Homo sapiens: one gene and its partner. The protein of the gene in region 2 interacts with the protein of the main gene of each other region in a pairwise test. Each region holds a gene or a part of one and is shown on either strand. Other genes may lie near its edges.

Region 1 (7,022 bases), on a different chromosome or scaffold from region 2:
GTGCCCTCTCTATGCCTTCTATCCAAACGGAGGTCCTCCCACTGTGCCCGCCGGCATGCTCCGGGGTGAAGGCCCTGGCTTGCCATACCTCCGGGATGAGCTGGAAGAGGGCGTTGGAGTAGAGGGTTCCAATCGCCAGAGCTATGAAGTAGAGCAGCAGCCTCTTGTAAAAGGTCTTCTTCATGAAGGGCACCACGCTGGCCCCCAGGAGGGAGCAGAGGGAGATGACGGTCACACAGAGGAGACCGTATCCCCACACTGCCGTGCGGAGGGAGGGCCAGCCCCACCCAGGGCAGGGAGAGAAGGCACATGCCCCATTGCACAGCAACCACCATTTAGCGGGAGGAAGGTGGAGCAGATAGGGAGGTCGCAAGGAAAAGTTTGGTGGATATTAACGGAACAAAAAAGAAAAATCAGAGAGAGACAAGTAGGGAGGGAGAGAGAAATAGAAAATTTGTTAGTGATTCACATCTGATGAAATTTCCTTCAATCAGTTCAGAAGAAAGAGGAATTCAAGGTGGCCTTGGAACCCTGTGACTTCTGCCCCTGTGGCCACTGGTGGCCCCAAATCGTTCCTGCCAGTGGTGTGACTGGCAGGGCAGGGTGCTGCCTCGTCACACACCCAAGGTCTGCCCAGACCTATCACAGAGGCTGTCCAGGACAGACTTTGGACTCGAGGGCTCTCTTTATAGGACATGCAAGCAGGTGGAAAGAGGCTGATCACTCTGCTGCTGCGTTTGCTTTTGCATGTCCAATTCACACGGCGCAGGCTCGGGTGACACCACGACCACTTGGTTTGCTTTGTGCAAGACACAACCAAGCCAGATGTGCAGGGCAGAAGGGATGGAGAACGATTAATTCATGCCCAATGCCCATAAAATTCAGTGTCTTAACCTCTCAACTTCTTTGCTCATTTCCATGTGCTCTGAGAGGGGCTCAAGCACAAAGAACAGAGTTCCAGGAACACCCTGTCACAAAAATATTTCCTTGAACATTTCCCAGTTGTGACACTCTGTCCAGGCCCAAAAGAGGGCAAGACAGAACCAGACCAGGATGAGACACTCCCTGGCAGGCCACAGGGGTGGAGCACACACAATTACAGTATTTCCATTCCAGGAGGTCACAAGGCCTTTCATTTCAAATCTTTAAAAAATTAATATATTCCATTGCTGGAGCTGAAAAAATAGCCCAAGTTGAGGCCTCCCCTGCAAAGTGTTTGTCAGAGCCATGCAGAATTTTGAGATGGCACCAAGATGGTTCACATTCAACCAGGAAGAACAGGCAAGGCATGGCATCCCATCTGCTGTCTTTTCTGGGTGAGTCTTTTGACTGGGAAAGCCTGAGAAGCAGCTGACATGGGATCTTTGTGAAGGGCAGCATCCATGACTCCCTAATGGGGTCAACCACACGTCTGCGTATCCTCACCCTCCACAGCAGCATCCCTGCTTGAGCTAAAAAAGTGGGCAGACTGTCAACTTGGGCCTTATTTTTATAGCTCCTCTATGATAACAATTAAACAACAAAATTAACATTTCAAAACAGTCAAGTCAAGGTACCAGGAAGTCAGTCCTATCAGAAAAAAGTCAAGATGCAAGGTACAAAGGGCTGAGTGCCCCTTCCATTTATCTTGTCATTTTAATTTTGTTTGGTCTTAGTCTTTGTTCTGTGTTTGGCTCTCTATGCTAGAAACGATGGCCTGCTCAAAATTAAAGAACACTCGCTTTTTAGGCCAATTCTACATATCACTTGGTAACCTCTTTTCCTTCCATCTCATTCCAGATGGATAAGCTCTTGGTGCCCAGACCTGAGTACTGCCAGGATTTCTCCTTAGAATAGAGCAAGTACTTAGCACCAAAGGCATGGACGGCAGTCGATAGCTGCTGCTTTCCCTTGATGCCTTATGTATGGGGCTTAACAAGGGAGGGGAGACTGTCAAGTCCCCAGGAGGAGGGAAATTGGAAGAACCTTGCATCTGACAGCACCTGCAGAGGCCAGAGGAGTGAGAGGTGGGCCCTGAGATCCAGAGTTAGAAGTCGTTTGTGGCTTTGATACGAGGGACAGGTTCATTTCTCAGGTGGCAGTCATTGGGTGCCTTGGAGCCCAGGGTAGGGGAGGAGGGGATTGGCTCAGCTGTGCCGCCCCAGGGAAAGAGGACGCGCAAGTTTCTGTTCTACTGCACCTCTGGGATGAGCTGGAATAGCGCGTTAGACAGCAGCGTTCCAATGGACAGGGCGATGAAGTAAGTGAGCACACGGCTGAAAAACGCTTTCTCTGTGCAGGGCAGGACGAGGACTCCCAGGAGAGAGGCCAGGTTAATCAGTGAGACACTGAGAAAACCAAAGCCCCACACTGTGGAGGAACAAGAACAGACGAGGGCCTCTATTACTGAGGGTGGGGACACTCCTGCTGCCTGGGGCGGCCCTGTTCTGAATTCAGGTGTGATGGGGCAGACTGAGATCCACCAACCCATCAGTAAACATTTGCTGAGTCCATCTCTCACCAGATGCTGCGGAGAAGCCTAGGGAAACTATCAAAATTGCTATCCAAGAGAAACACCTTTTCCATGGAGAGACGGATGCAAACAGCAATGGAAGCCTAAAAACCATACAAGTAGGCCAGGTGCGGTGGCGCAAGCCTATAATCCCAGCACTTTGGGAGGCTGAGGAAGGTGGATCACCTGAGGTCAGGAGTTCGAGACCGGCCTGACTAACATGGTGAAACCCCATCTCTACTAAATACAAAAAATTAGCTGGGCGTGGTGGCGCGTGCCTGAAATCCCAGCTACTCAGGAGGCTGAGGCAGGAGAATCGCTTGAACCCAGGAGGCGGAGGTTGCAGTGAGCCGAGATTGCACCACCGCACTTCAGCCTGGGCAACAAGAGCGAAAGTCTGTCTCAAAACAAACAAACAAAAAAAACAAAAAAAGCCATACAAGTAAATAACGACAGCAGAAAACAGGGACTTGCAGTAACACAGACAGTATATTCCGGGTGCCGACACTCAGGCAGCACACGCCGGCCCTATGGGGCTTAGGGCTATCAGGGTGTACACTCACAGCTCGTGGCAAGCCCACTGTGGCTGGATCAGGGATACCGGGATAGGGAGGGGAAGAAGGATTCAGGGGCCAAGTGCAGCCTCCGGGAGGTCTTAAAGGAAAAACTATAAAACCAAAGTAGGCCAGGTATGGTGGCTCATGCCTGTGATCCCAGCACTTTGGGAGGCCGAGGCAGGAGGATCACTTGAGCCCAGGAGTTTGAGACCAGCCTGGGTAACATAGTGAGACCGTGTCTCTACAAAAAATTTAAAAATTAGCTGGGCATGGCGGTGCACGCCTGTAGTCCCAGCTACTCAGGAGGCTGAGGCAGGAGGGTCACTTCAGGCCAAAAGGTCAAGGCTGCAGTGAGCTATGATTGCACCACTGGACTCCAGCCTCGGAGACAGAGCGACATCCTATCTCAGAAAAAAAAAAAAAAAAGATTAAAAAAGCCAAAGGGTTGGGCCCCCGTGGTTCAACATGAAACAAAAAGCAGACCAAAAAGGGATCCATAGGCCGCTCAAGAAGTCCAACGCTCTGAACATTCGCCAGCTACGGCCCAGGAGTCTGACAATGTGCTAGGCCATCCTTGCAAAATACAAAAATTATCCATCCAATCATCGCTCCCGCTCCTGACACCGACAACCTCATCCTGGTCATCACTGGTGAGGCATTCAGTGAGGAGCAGCAGCAGCTCAGCCCAGGGGTCCTTGTGAGACGCGGGCGAGATGGGAGATGGGCTCCTGCCTTCCTGGCCTGGCTCACCTTCAACAGCGCTTGGCCGCCCCTCCTCCGTCTGCTCATTCTCCTCGTTTTCCTGGTTCTCCGAGGTGCAGGCCCGGGAATCCAGCTGCTGGAGGATGGTGGGGCAGAACTCCTGGAGCTCGCTGCTCCCAATCCGCGACTGCTCGCTGAAATTGTGGGCAGTGAAGAGGTCTCCAGAACTAAAGCACTGAAACACAGGAAGGGCAGGAAGCCGCTTAGACCCCAAAGGTCAGGCCTTGCCCTGCTAAACAGCAACCTACTCAGCCTTCCCAGAGGAAAAAGAGAAGACAGAAATGTCCAAATTTCAGGGAATTTGTAGATTCATCTAGTCTAGGGATGAGGGCAAGGTATTCCCTAAACTTAAAAAACTAGTAACTAATCCTTATGGCTCAGCCAGCCAGGAAAGTTACACATCATAAGCACAACCGTCGGTAAATGAGTGCCTGAGAAACTTTGGGAATGACAAGATTCCAATCATTGTCACCAAAGTGGCAGGGCACGGTGGCTAACACTGTAATCCCAGCACTTTGGAAGGCCAAGGCAGGCGGATCACTTGAGGACAGAAATTGGAGACCAGCCTGGGCAACATGAGACCCCTTCTTTACAAAAAGTTGAAAAATTAGTGAGGTGTGGCGGCACATACCTGTACTCTCAACTACTGAGGAGGCTGAGGCAGGGGGACTGCTAGAGCCCAGGAGTTGGAGGCTACAGTGAAGGAGCTATGATCACACCACTGCACTCCAGCCTGGGTGACAGAGCAACACCCTGTCTCTTAAAAAAAAAAAAAAAGCAAAATATTGTCACTAGGGTATAGTTTCTAGAAAACACCATTCTGGGGCCAGGTGCGGTGGCTCTCGCCTGTAATCCCAGCACTTTGGGAGACTCAGATGGGCAGATCACTTGAGGTCAGGAGTTCAAAACCAGCCTGGCCAACATGTTGAAGCCCCATCTCTACTAAAAATACAAAAATTAGCCGGGCGTGGTAGCTCACGCCTGTAATCCCAGCTACTCGGGAGGCTGAGGCAGGAGAATCACCTGAACCCAGGAGGTGGAGGTTGCAGCGAGCCGAGATCGCGCCACTGCACTCCAGCCTGGGCAACAGAACGAGACTCCATCCCCCACAAAACAAAAGAGAAAGAAAACACCATTCTGTGTGTGTGCCTGAAGATACAAGCTTCGTACCAAATCTGGCTGCACATCACAATAGCCCAGGGAGCTATTATGTTAAAATGCGGGTTCCAGCTACTTCTCTGAAGCTGAAATGTCTAAGGGCGGGGCTCTGCCAAAACTGTGGTGCTGCCCGATCAGCCCCACACATCCTCAACCATAGGACTGCCCTCAGCCTGAAAGACATATGTGTTCACAGAGGTTAGGGGAGGAAAACCTGAAGATTCAGGGAAGTGGGCCATGGCCGGCCAGCAGCCACCACACACAGTCACCTTGGGAGGCAGCAGGTAAGCGCTTCTCACGAACCGTTCCTGTGAAATCTGCAGCTCCACTTCTAATTATACTGTCTACACCTACATGCCAGGCCTTTTCTGAGTTCGGTCTCACATGGGCTTATCTCTGAGAGTCAGCCCTCTTGGTGTGCTCCCAAAATAAGTGCCTGCGCTTCTAAGGCTGGGGGCTGGACTCCCGCCACCCCGAGATGCTGCTGCTATCCTGGCGGGTCCTGAGGCTCACGCAGCTGCATTACCCCGCGGGGGCACGGGGGCGTGCTTGTCTCTGGCTCAGCATCTGATGTGCTCAGGTGTTCGCATCCAAGCCACGTGGTTCCCCCGTCCCTTTTTTTAATTTTTATTTTTTGAGATGGAGTCTCGCTCTGTCGCCAGGCTGGAATGCAGTGGCATAATCTCCGCTCACTGCGACCTCTGCCTCCTGGGCTCAAGCAATTCTCCTGCCTCAGCCTCCCAAGTAGCTGGGACTACAGGTATCTCCCGCCATACCCAGATAATTTTTGTATTTTTAGCAGAGACGGAGTTTCACCGTGTTAGCCAGGATGGTCTCGATCTCCTGACCTCGTGATCCACCTGCCTCAGCCTCCCAAAGTGCTGGGGTTACAGGCGTCAGCCACCGCGCCCGGCCCCGCTCCTCCCCCCCAACTTTTGAGGCCTCCACCTCCTGGGTTCAAGTGATTCTCTCACCTCAGCCTCCGGAGTAGCTGGGATTAGAGGCACCCACCACCACACCGAGCTAATTTTTGTATTTTTAGTAGAGATGGGGTTTCACTGTGTTGGCCAGGCTAGTCTCAAACTCCTGATCTCAAGTGATCTGCCTGCCTAGGCCTCCCAAAGTGCTGGGATTACAGGCGTGAGCCACAGTGCCCAGCACCCCCGTCCATTTTATCTCCACACTGCACTCATCTTTCAAGGGGCAGCTGGAGGACACCCCACGCTCGAGCCTTCCCTGATGACTGCAGCACACTCATCTCCCCCTCTCATTTCTGCATCCTACAATTACTGTCCAACCCACAAAATGCAATGCTTCATTTCAGTGCCTGCTGACTTTGTCCTCTGTTGGTTGAACTCCCCATCGTGACAGTCAACTCCCTAAATATGACTCATTTTTCTCTATTTCTCACAACACCAGCACAGGGAACAAAGTCGATATATAAAGATTTTGCTGGCTGACTTATATTTGGCTGCCACAAATAGCCCCAGAGTCTGATTAGCAGAGATGATATGGAAGAAAGAACACAGAATCCAAAGACCTGGCGTTCCAGCCCTGGTCTCTGCAGGGACTCACTGCGGGACCCTCGGTGTCCTCTCCTATAAAATGCAGATAATCTCACCTGCACCTTGAGGGACTGTGGGCTCACCCGGGATAGTGTGTAATGGACTCTGTCAATGGTAAACTCTATGAGAAATACCGTCCTGGGAGCCGTGTTTTCTCAGTATTTCTGAGTGACTCAAGTGCGGCGCTGAGGAAGATTCTGGGGGGCTGAGAACCCCACTTCCAGGCTGCCTTTTATTTTGTTTTGTTTTGAGACAGATTCTCGCTCTGTTGCCCAGGCTGGAGTGCAATGGCTCGATCTTGGCTCACTGCAACCTCCACCTCCTGGGTTCAAGCGATTCTCTTGCCTCAGCCTCCCAAGTGGCTGGGATCACAGGCATCCGCCACCATGCCTGGCTAATTCTTGTATTTCTAGTAGAGTTGGGGTTTCACCATGTTGGCCAGGCTGATCTCGAACCCCTGACCTCAGATAATCCACCCGCCTTGGCCTC
Region 2 (7,624 bases):
GCCTGACTTGACTGTCCCTACCGAAGACAAGTCTCTGGCTGTGCCCAGCTTGATATCCAGGGCAGGGAACTCTGTGCCTGTGTCCAGTTGGGATGTGTTTGGTGTGGCTAAATTGATAGCCAAGCTAGGTCTGTTGGTGGCCATTGTGGCTAAATGTCTGGCTGCGTCTGTCCTTGTGTCCATAGCAGTCAAATTCACAGTCGTGTTGGCCCTTTGGAGACGCCCCCGGGGTCTGGGGATCCCCCTGGCCCGGGGCTTGCCTTTTCCTGGAGAAGCTCTGGTAGGCATGTGGTCAGTCACTGAGACAAGGTGCCCCTGGCCCAACGAGCCTGGCTCTGCAAGGACTGGTGCACTCTGGGCTAACCGGGATTGGAAAGGTAAGGCTAGGTAGGAACTCACCAGGGGCTTCTCCGTGGCAAGCATCCTGTTGGATTTGGTCAGACCTGGGTTCCCTGGGCCCTCAGAGTGGACCCTGCCCCCTGGCACTAGGGTCACAGGTGGCGAGCCTGGCGAGGACACCCTCCCTCCTTCATGGGGAGCAGCCTTCTTTCCTGGGGTAGGCAACTCTTCCCAGTGAGAAAGTGGGCGATCCAGGGACCGTGCCTGGCTGTTCTGATGGAGAGTCAAGGAGATGGAGCTGAGCTTCCTGGGTACAAGGCTGCTGGTGGGCAGGGGGCTCAAGGAAGCCCCCAGAGCGATGCCCGTCTCCTGTGGGGGCACACTCCGGGTCCTGGCTCCAAGGCCCAGCCGGCTGGAGGTCTGTGGGATATGGCTTTGGGGGAAGGTATCCAGATGGATGGTCTTCCTGAGGACGGGGGTGAGGGGGGACCCTCCTCCAGGGAGTCTCGAGGGGCGGATAGGGCGCCCCAGCACATGGCTATGGGAGAAGGAGGTTCCCGGGCCTGGAGCTCCATGCGACTGCATCTCTGGAGGAGCAGGAGCAAAGTTGTGGTCCATCCAGGTCGTTTGTCTTTCCCTGAGGCAATCAACAGAGAGAAGAGGCCAGGCAGGGGTGAGGAGCTCAGGCCTGGAGGTCTCAGCTCTCCCCTTCCTGACCAGCAGCTGAGCATGCCGGGTCTGAAGGGGCCTGGTTCTGGGGACTGTCCAGTCCTTAGTGGAGGATGCATGTAACTTCCTCCTGTCCTCCTACGGCTCCTACCTGCTGCAGACTGATCTGTACCTCATACCTACCCCACCCCGGCCAGCCACCACACAGTGGGGTGGGCACGTCCAGTGAGCAGTCTGCCTCCAGCATGGGGCATCTCAGGCTGGGCTTACGTCTCCCTTTGCCTGGGCCTGAGTGTGGCCCCTGTCTCTGTGGACAGCTCTATGGAGGTCACATACATGTTCAGGGACTCCAGAGGAGGGCAGTGCTTACTGGAGACGTCTCTCCCTTTCTCTTCCAGAAAGAACCAAAGGGCTGTGGGTTCCCACCCACAGCAGCCAACATAGGAGCTCAGGTGTCCAGGTGGCAGGATGAGAGAGGACCAATTTGGCTTAGAGCCCCAGAACCAAGAAAGAGCCCTGAGCTGGCCTAGTGCTGGAGTCAGAAACAGAGCCAGCCCTGGAGAAGGTGAGGATGGGAAATGGAGAGGCAGTGAGTGTTCACAGAAGGAGCTTATCTGGTGAACAAGCCATGGTCCCCGCCCTTGAAGAGGCTGCCATGCCCAGGGATGCCAGGCAAGGAAGTAGGCAGGGCTCCACCAAGCTAAGCATTAGGGGTAGAAAGGCGGGAGGCTAGACCTGAGCTGGGGCTGTTCCTACAGAAGGCCCAAAGGTGAGAAAGTGTGGCATCTTTCTGAAAATCCAACATGGGGCTCCTAGGCTGTATGTAGCAGGGAGGGGAGAGCCAAGGCTGCAGGTGAGCTGGGGTCCAGGCCAGGCTACAGCAAAGTTTAGGCCAGGGAATGTGACCCATTCCGATCTGTAGGTGGGAACGGCCACTCGGGCAGTGTGACAGAGGGATCAGATGGGAACAGAATTGAAGCCAGGATCCCATGAGGACATAGTTGAAACTCTCTGCTCCGTGGGCTGTGCAAGGGGCAGAGCTAGGGCTGGGGCTGGAGGAGGCTGCATTGCACAGGGGTAGAAGTGGCGGGACTGCCCAGGGTAGGGAGTGGGCACAAAGAGGTGTCGAGGATGAAGCTCAGGACTCTGGCTGTGGTCTTAGTAGATGGGCCACTCCCTGCTACTCTGGACTCCAAGTAACTCACCCTCTAGAAAAAAGTTGGTTTGGTTGCTTTTAACACAGCAGGCTGGGACCTGCAGCTGGGGGACAAGGCCAGGGCTGGTGGGAGGAGTCAGTTCCAGAGGGCTCATGGGGAGGGGAGTGATCATGTAGCCAGGTCCTTGAGGTCTGCAGCAGGGACGGGGAAGGCAGGGCACCGGACAGGGAAGGCATCACCCCTCACAATGGTGCCCCCAGCCCCTCATCCCTCTCCAGCCATATATTTGTATCCAAGACTGTCCTGGCCTCCAACCCTTTCCCACCTGGCCTATCACTGCAGCCCTGAACTTCTGCCCCCTCCTGCACAGCCACATCCACTTGGGCACACACGTTTACCCTGCACTTAGCCACAAACAGCTCCCCTCAGTGTGCACACCCACACACAGAGCAGGCCAGAGGACAGGGTGTCCGAGGGCATCACCCGACTCCCCATCCCCTCACTGCACTCCCATCTTCCATGGATTGCTTGGTCCTTCCCCACCCCACCCCCACCACCCTCCCACCCCCACAAACCCCCACACCCTTCCACCCCCCTACACACCTACCTTGATCAGAGGACAAGAAGGATCCAGTGTGTCTGGGAAGATAAGGCACACGCAGGCCCCTCACCTCCCCTGCACTCAGAGTCTGGCCATGGTGGCCAGCTTAGGGGCCTTGTCCCTCTGGTCCCCTCCTCAGCTCCTGCTCAGCCTCCAGGCCACAGTCCCCAGGCACAGGGCCCAGCCCTCTGCTCACTGTCCCACCAGCTACATCCCCGGAGACCGTGCTGGGCTGGGCTCTGGTGCAGGGAGGGGCTGGCTTCCTAGGAGTGGGCGGCTGTGAATGGCTGCTCTGAGCCTCTGGAATCCTGAAGAGCCATGGGAGGCTGGTAACGGCCAGGCTGGCACTCACGGCCACCTGCAGGGAGGTTCCCTGCAGCCTGCCCTCCCCAAATCTGCTCTGTCTCCCACAGACTTTGATGCCTGGGGAGTCTGCAGTAAAAACAGGGGTACTCCAAATATGGCTGCACTCTGGTAGTCCCAGCGCGAGTCTCCCTCTGGCTCTGCCTCTGTGCCCTTCATGCCCTGTTCAGCTCTGCAACCCTCAGACCATCTTGCCCACTCACCTGGTCTTTCCTCAAGGGGGCTGGAGTTCCTGGAGGCTAGAGCTCCTTCCACAACTATTCCCTGAGCCCCAGCTTGCTCCAGCTGGACCCTGTACCCAGACCCTAAGGGTGTGAAGAGGACCCCGCCCTAGGCCTGCCCCTGAGGGGACCACAAAGCCACCCAGCCTGGCTCTGGCAATGCCGACTCTCAGCAGCCCCTGGCCCTGGGGCTGGGATGGGAGCCCTCTTCTGTGTTCCCACAGCCCTCGGCTGCCTCTGTCATAGCAGTGGTGATAATAACAATGGTGCTGATAACAGCTACTATTTCCTGAGCACTTGCTCTGTGCCCGGCACCATGCCAGGGCTGGGCGGAGCTCACAGTCTGCTAGGAAGATAGGTATGTAAACAGATCCTATAGTACTGTCCTGTACGGTGATGGCAGATGTCCTCCGAGCACTCACCCTGAGTCAGGAACTAGGCTAAGCATTCTCCTGGCATCTCCTTTAATCTCCGCCTCATCACCTGCTTTTTACCGAGGAGGACATTGCAGCCCACACAACACTGTGTTGTCTGGTCTGCTCTCCTGTGTGTCTCTCTCTTTAGCGAGTGAGCTTCTGGAGCTGCGCTGGGCAATACAACTTTCAGTGATAATGGAAATGTTCTATGTCTGTGCTGTCCAGTACAGTAGCCACTAGCCACAGATGGCTACCGATCACTTAAAATGTGTCTACAGTGACCAAGGAACTGGATTTTTTAGTTTATTTTAATCTGTGGCTACCATATTAGCTCAGCTCTGTTTCGTTTGTTGTTGCTGTTGTTGTTATTAGTTTTTTTGAACAGGGTTTCACTCTGTCGCCCAGGCTGGAAGACAGTGGCGCCATCATGGCTCACTGCAGCCTCTTGGGCACAAGTGATCCTCCCACTTCTGCCTCCAGAGTAGCTGGGACCACAGGCATGCACCACCACGCCCAGCTAAGTTTTTATTTTTTGTAGAGACGGGGGTCTCCCTATGTAGCTCAGGCTGGTCTCGAACTTCTGAGCTCAAGCAATACTCCTACCTCCACCTCCCAAAGTGCTGGGATTACGGTCGTGAGCCACCATGCCTGGGTGGAAAGCTCAGTTATGAAGGTCCTGGATCTTCTTCTCTGGGCCCCAGGGTCTGGCAAAAATTGGCTTCAGTAAGTTTCTTTTTCTTGAGAGTCTCACTCTGTCACCCAGGCTGGACTGCAGTGGCGGGATCTCAGCTCACTGCAACTCCGCCTCCCGGGTTCAAGCCTCAGGATTCTCCTGCCTCAGCCTCCCAAGTAGCTGGGATTACAGGTGTGTGCCACCACGCCTGGCTAATTTTTGTATTTTTAGTAGAGACGGGGTTTCACCATGTTGGCCAGGCTGGTCTCAAACTTCTGACCTCAAGTAATGCATCTGCCTCAGCCTCCCAAAGTGCTGAGATTACATGCATGAGCCACCGTGCCCAACCGGTAAATTTCTTTAGAAAGAAATAATGAATGAATGAATGATTGAATGGTGATTGTGTGGGCCTAGCACCCATCCCTCTTCTTTTTTTTTTTTTTTTTTTGAGACAGAGTCTCGCTCTGTCACCCAGGCTGGAGTGCAGTGACGCCATCTCGACTCACTGCAAGCTCCGCCTCTCGGGTTCACACCATCACACCATTCTCCTGCCTCAGCCTCCCGAGTAGCTGGGACTACAAGCACCCGCCACCACGCCCACCTAAATTTTTTGTATTTTTAGTAGAGATGGGGTTTCGCAGTGTTAGCCAGGATGGTCTTGATCTCCTGTCCTTGTGATCCGCCTGCCTCGGCCTCCCAAAGTGCTGGGATTACAGGCATGAGCCACCGTGCCCAGCCCCTATCCCTCTTCTTATCCTTTCTCTCCCCTTACAGCTTTAGGTTCTCAAACTTGGCTGGGCTCTGGTTACCAGGGCAACGTGCTGGGATCCCAGTGGATGGGGGAGGGCAGCTATCTGGCGCTTCCATGCTTTGAGGCCCTGAGAACTGGCCTGACTTAAGGAAGAACAGAGGGTGCTGGGAAGGAGAGGCACAGCTCTGCCTGGACGGATTGGAGCAAGGGAGACTTTCCTGGGCCCAGCCCCATTGGATTACATGATCTCTGTGAGATAAGCAGCCTTGGGCTGAAATCAGTGGCCCTGGGTTCTCTCCCCACTTTGGCCAACGATTCACCAGGCAACGTCTATCAGATTAACTTGTGCTTCTGGGACTCAGTTGCCTTTTAAAATAGGGATCAGATGCCCTCATGTGGTCGGTCTCTTCTACTTCAAGATCTACAATTCCTCCATCTCGCTCCCTGCCAGGCTGTTAGGGCCTTGAGAGCAAGGCCTGAGTCATGTTCATCTCCGCATCCTCCTGCCCATCTGCCCTGCTTAGAGGCTTAGAGGACACTTCCTGCCCAGTAATTACAGGCCAAGTTTCAGCTGCCCTCTAGGGGCCCAAAGTGACAATGGCCCTCTCCTATCTATACATATGGTGCTTTCCCATCAAAGGAAAGATCCATAGGCCTGGAAGTGGCCTCAGAGAACAGAGGCCTCCACTCAACCACAAAACCATTGTGGTGGCCTCCCAGACAAGTGTCATAGGCTCTGGAGTCCTTCAAGCCTGGGTTTGTTACAACTATGTGATTTTCAAACAAGTCAATCCCCCTGAGCTCCCCTCTCATCTGTAAAATGGAGATTATATCAGTCAGAATGAGTTAAATTATGCTGCAGTAACAACCATTCCCAAATCCCAGTGGCTGATAACAACATGCTGATTTTTTTTTTTTTTTTTTTTTTTGAGACAGGGTCTCACTCTGTTGCCCAAGCTGGAGCGCAGTGGCACTATCACAGCTCACTGTAGCCTCGACCTACCCAGGCTCAGGTGATCCTCCCACCTCAGCCTCCTGAGTAGCTGGGACTACAGGCATGTGCCACCACGCCCAGCTAATATTTCTTCTTTTTTTTTTTCTTGAGATGGAGTTTTGCTCTTATTGCCCAGGATGGAGTGCAATGGCATGATCTCAGCTCACTGCAAACTCTGCCTCCCAGTTTCAAGCAATTCTCCTGCCTTAGCGTCCTAAGTAGCTGGGATTACAGGTGTGTGCCACCACACCCAACTAATTTTGTATTTTTAGTAGAGGCAGGGTTTCACCATGTTGATTAGGCTGGTCTCAAACTTCTGACCTCAAGTGATCCACCCTTCTCAGCCTCCCAAAGTGCTGGGATTACAGGCGTGAGCTGCGTCCAGCCTAATTTTTCTAATTTTTGTAGAGACAGGGTTTTGCCATGTTGCCCAGGCTGGTCTAAAACCCCTGGCCTCAAGCGATCCTCCTACTTCAGCCTCCCAAAGTACTGGGATTATAGGCCTGAGCCACCACACCTGGCCGCAATGATACATTGATTTCTCATCCATGTCTCATGTCCACAGTAATTTGGGTCCACTAAGGCTCTGCTCTGTGCCCTCTTCCCTCTGGGACCCAGGCTGCCTTCTAGTGCATTGCTAGTCATGTGGCAGAGGGAAGGAGGGAGTGACAAATTGTGGACTAGCCATTAGTCCATCAGCCATTCGGCCTGTACTCACTTCTAATTACAACTAATTGGCCAGAACTAGTCTTATGGCCCCACCCATCACAAGGAGGCAGGGAAGTTTAATCCTACCGTGTGCTGATAGCTGGAGAGTCAGAAACCTTTGGTGAACAGCAGTGAGGACCCACTTGCATGGTTGCCATAAGAATGCAATGGGGGGCCGGGCGCGGTGGCTCAAGCCTATAATCCCAGCACTTTGGGAGGCCTAGGCGGACGGATCACGAGGTCAGGAGTTCAAGACAAGCCTGGCCAACATGGTGAAACCCTGTCTCTACTAAAAATACAAAAAACTTAGCTGGGTGTGGTGGCGCGTGCCTGTAATCCCAGCTACTTTGGGAGGCTGAGGCAGGAGAATCGTTCAAACCCGGGAGGCAAAGGTTGCAGTGAGCCGAGATCACACCATTGCACTCCAGCTGGGCAACAAGAGCGAAACTCTGTCTCACAAAAAAAAAAAAAAAAAAAAAGCAATGGGGGCCAGGCGCGGTGGCTCACACCTGTAATCCCAGGACTTTGGGAGGCTGAGGCAGGCAGATCACCTGAGGTCAGGAGTTCAAGACCAGCCTAGCCAACATGGCAAAACCCCATCTCAACTAAAAATACAAAAATTAGCTGGGCCTGGTGGCGGGCGCCTATGATCGCAGCTACTTGGGAGGCTGAGGCAGGAGAATCACTTGAACCCAAGGAGCAGAGGTTGCAATGAGCCGAGATCACACCACT

The links. The genes of interacting proteins can lie anywhere in the genome.
Region 1: the proteins of SEPTIN3 (region 2) and SLC39A14 interact in binary tests that used the Homo sapiens proteins (3 or more experiments, as listed by UniProt).

Annotation. Positions count from the first base shown.
Region 1 is NC_000008.11:22,405,273-22,412,294, reverse strand, and holds part of SLC39A14 (metal cation symporter ZIP14 isoform a precursor), read right to left. Parts: intron 3,986-7,022; coding exon 3,799-3,985; intron 2,350-3,798; coding exon of another isoform or gene 2,180-2,349; intron 259-2,179; coding exon 89-258; intron 1-88. UniProt on the Homo sapiens protein: Electroneutral transporter of the plasma membrane mediating the cellular uptake of the divalent metal cations zinc, manganese and iron that are important for tissue homeostasis, metabolism, development and immunity.
Region 2 is NC_000022.11:41,964,826-41,972,449, reverse strand, and holds the start of SEPTIN3 (neuronal-specific septin-3), read right to left. Parts: upstream 3,008-7,624; 5' UTR 2,773-3,007; intron 977-2,772; 5' UTR 958-976; coding exon 1-957. UniProt on the Homo sapiens protein: Filament-forming cytoskeletal GTPase. May play a role in cytokinesis.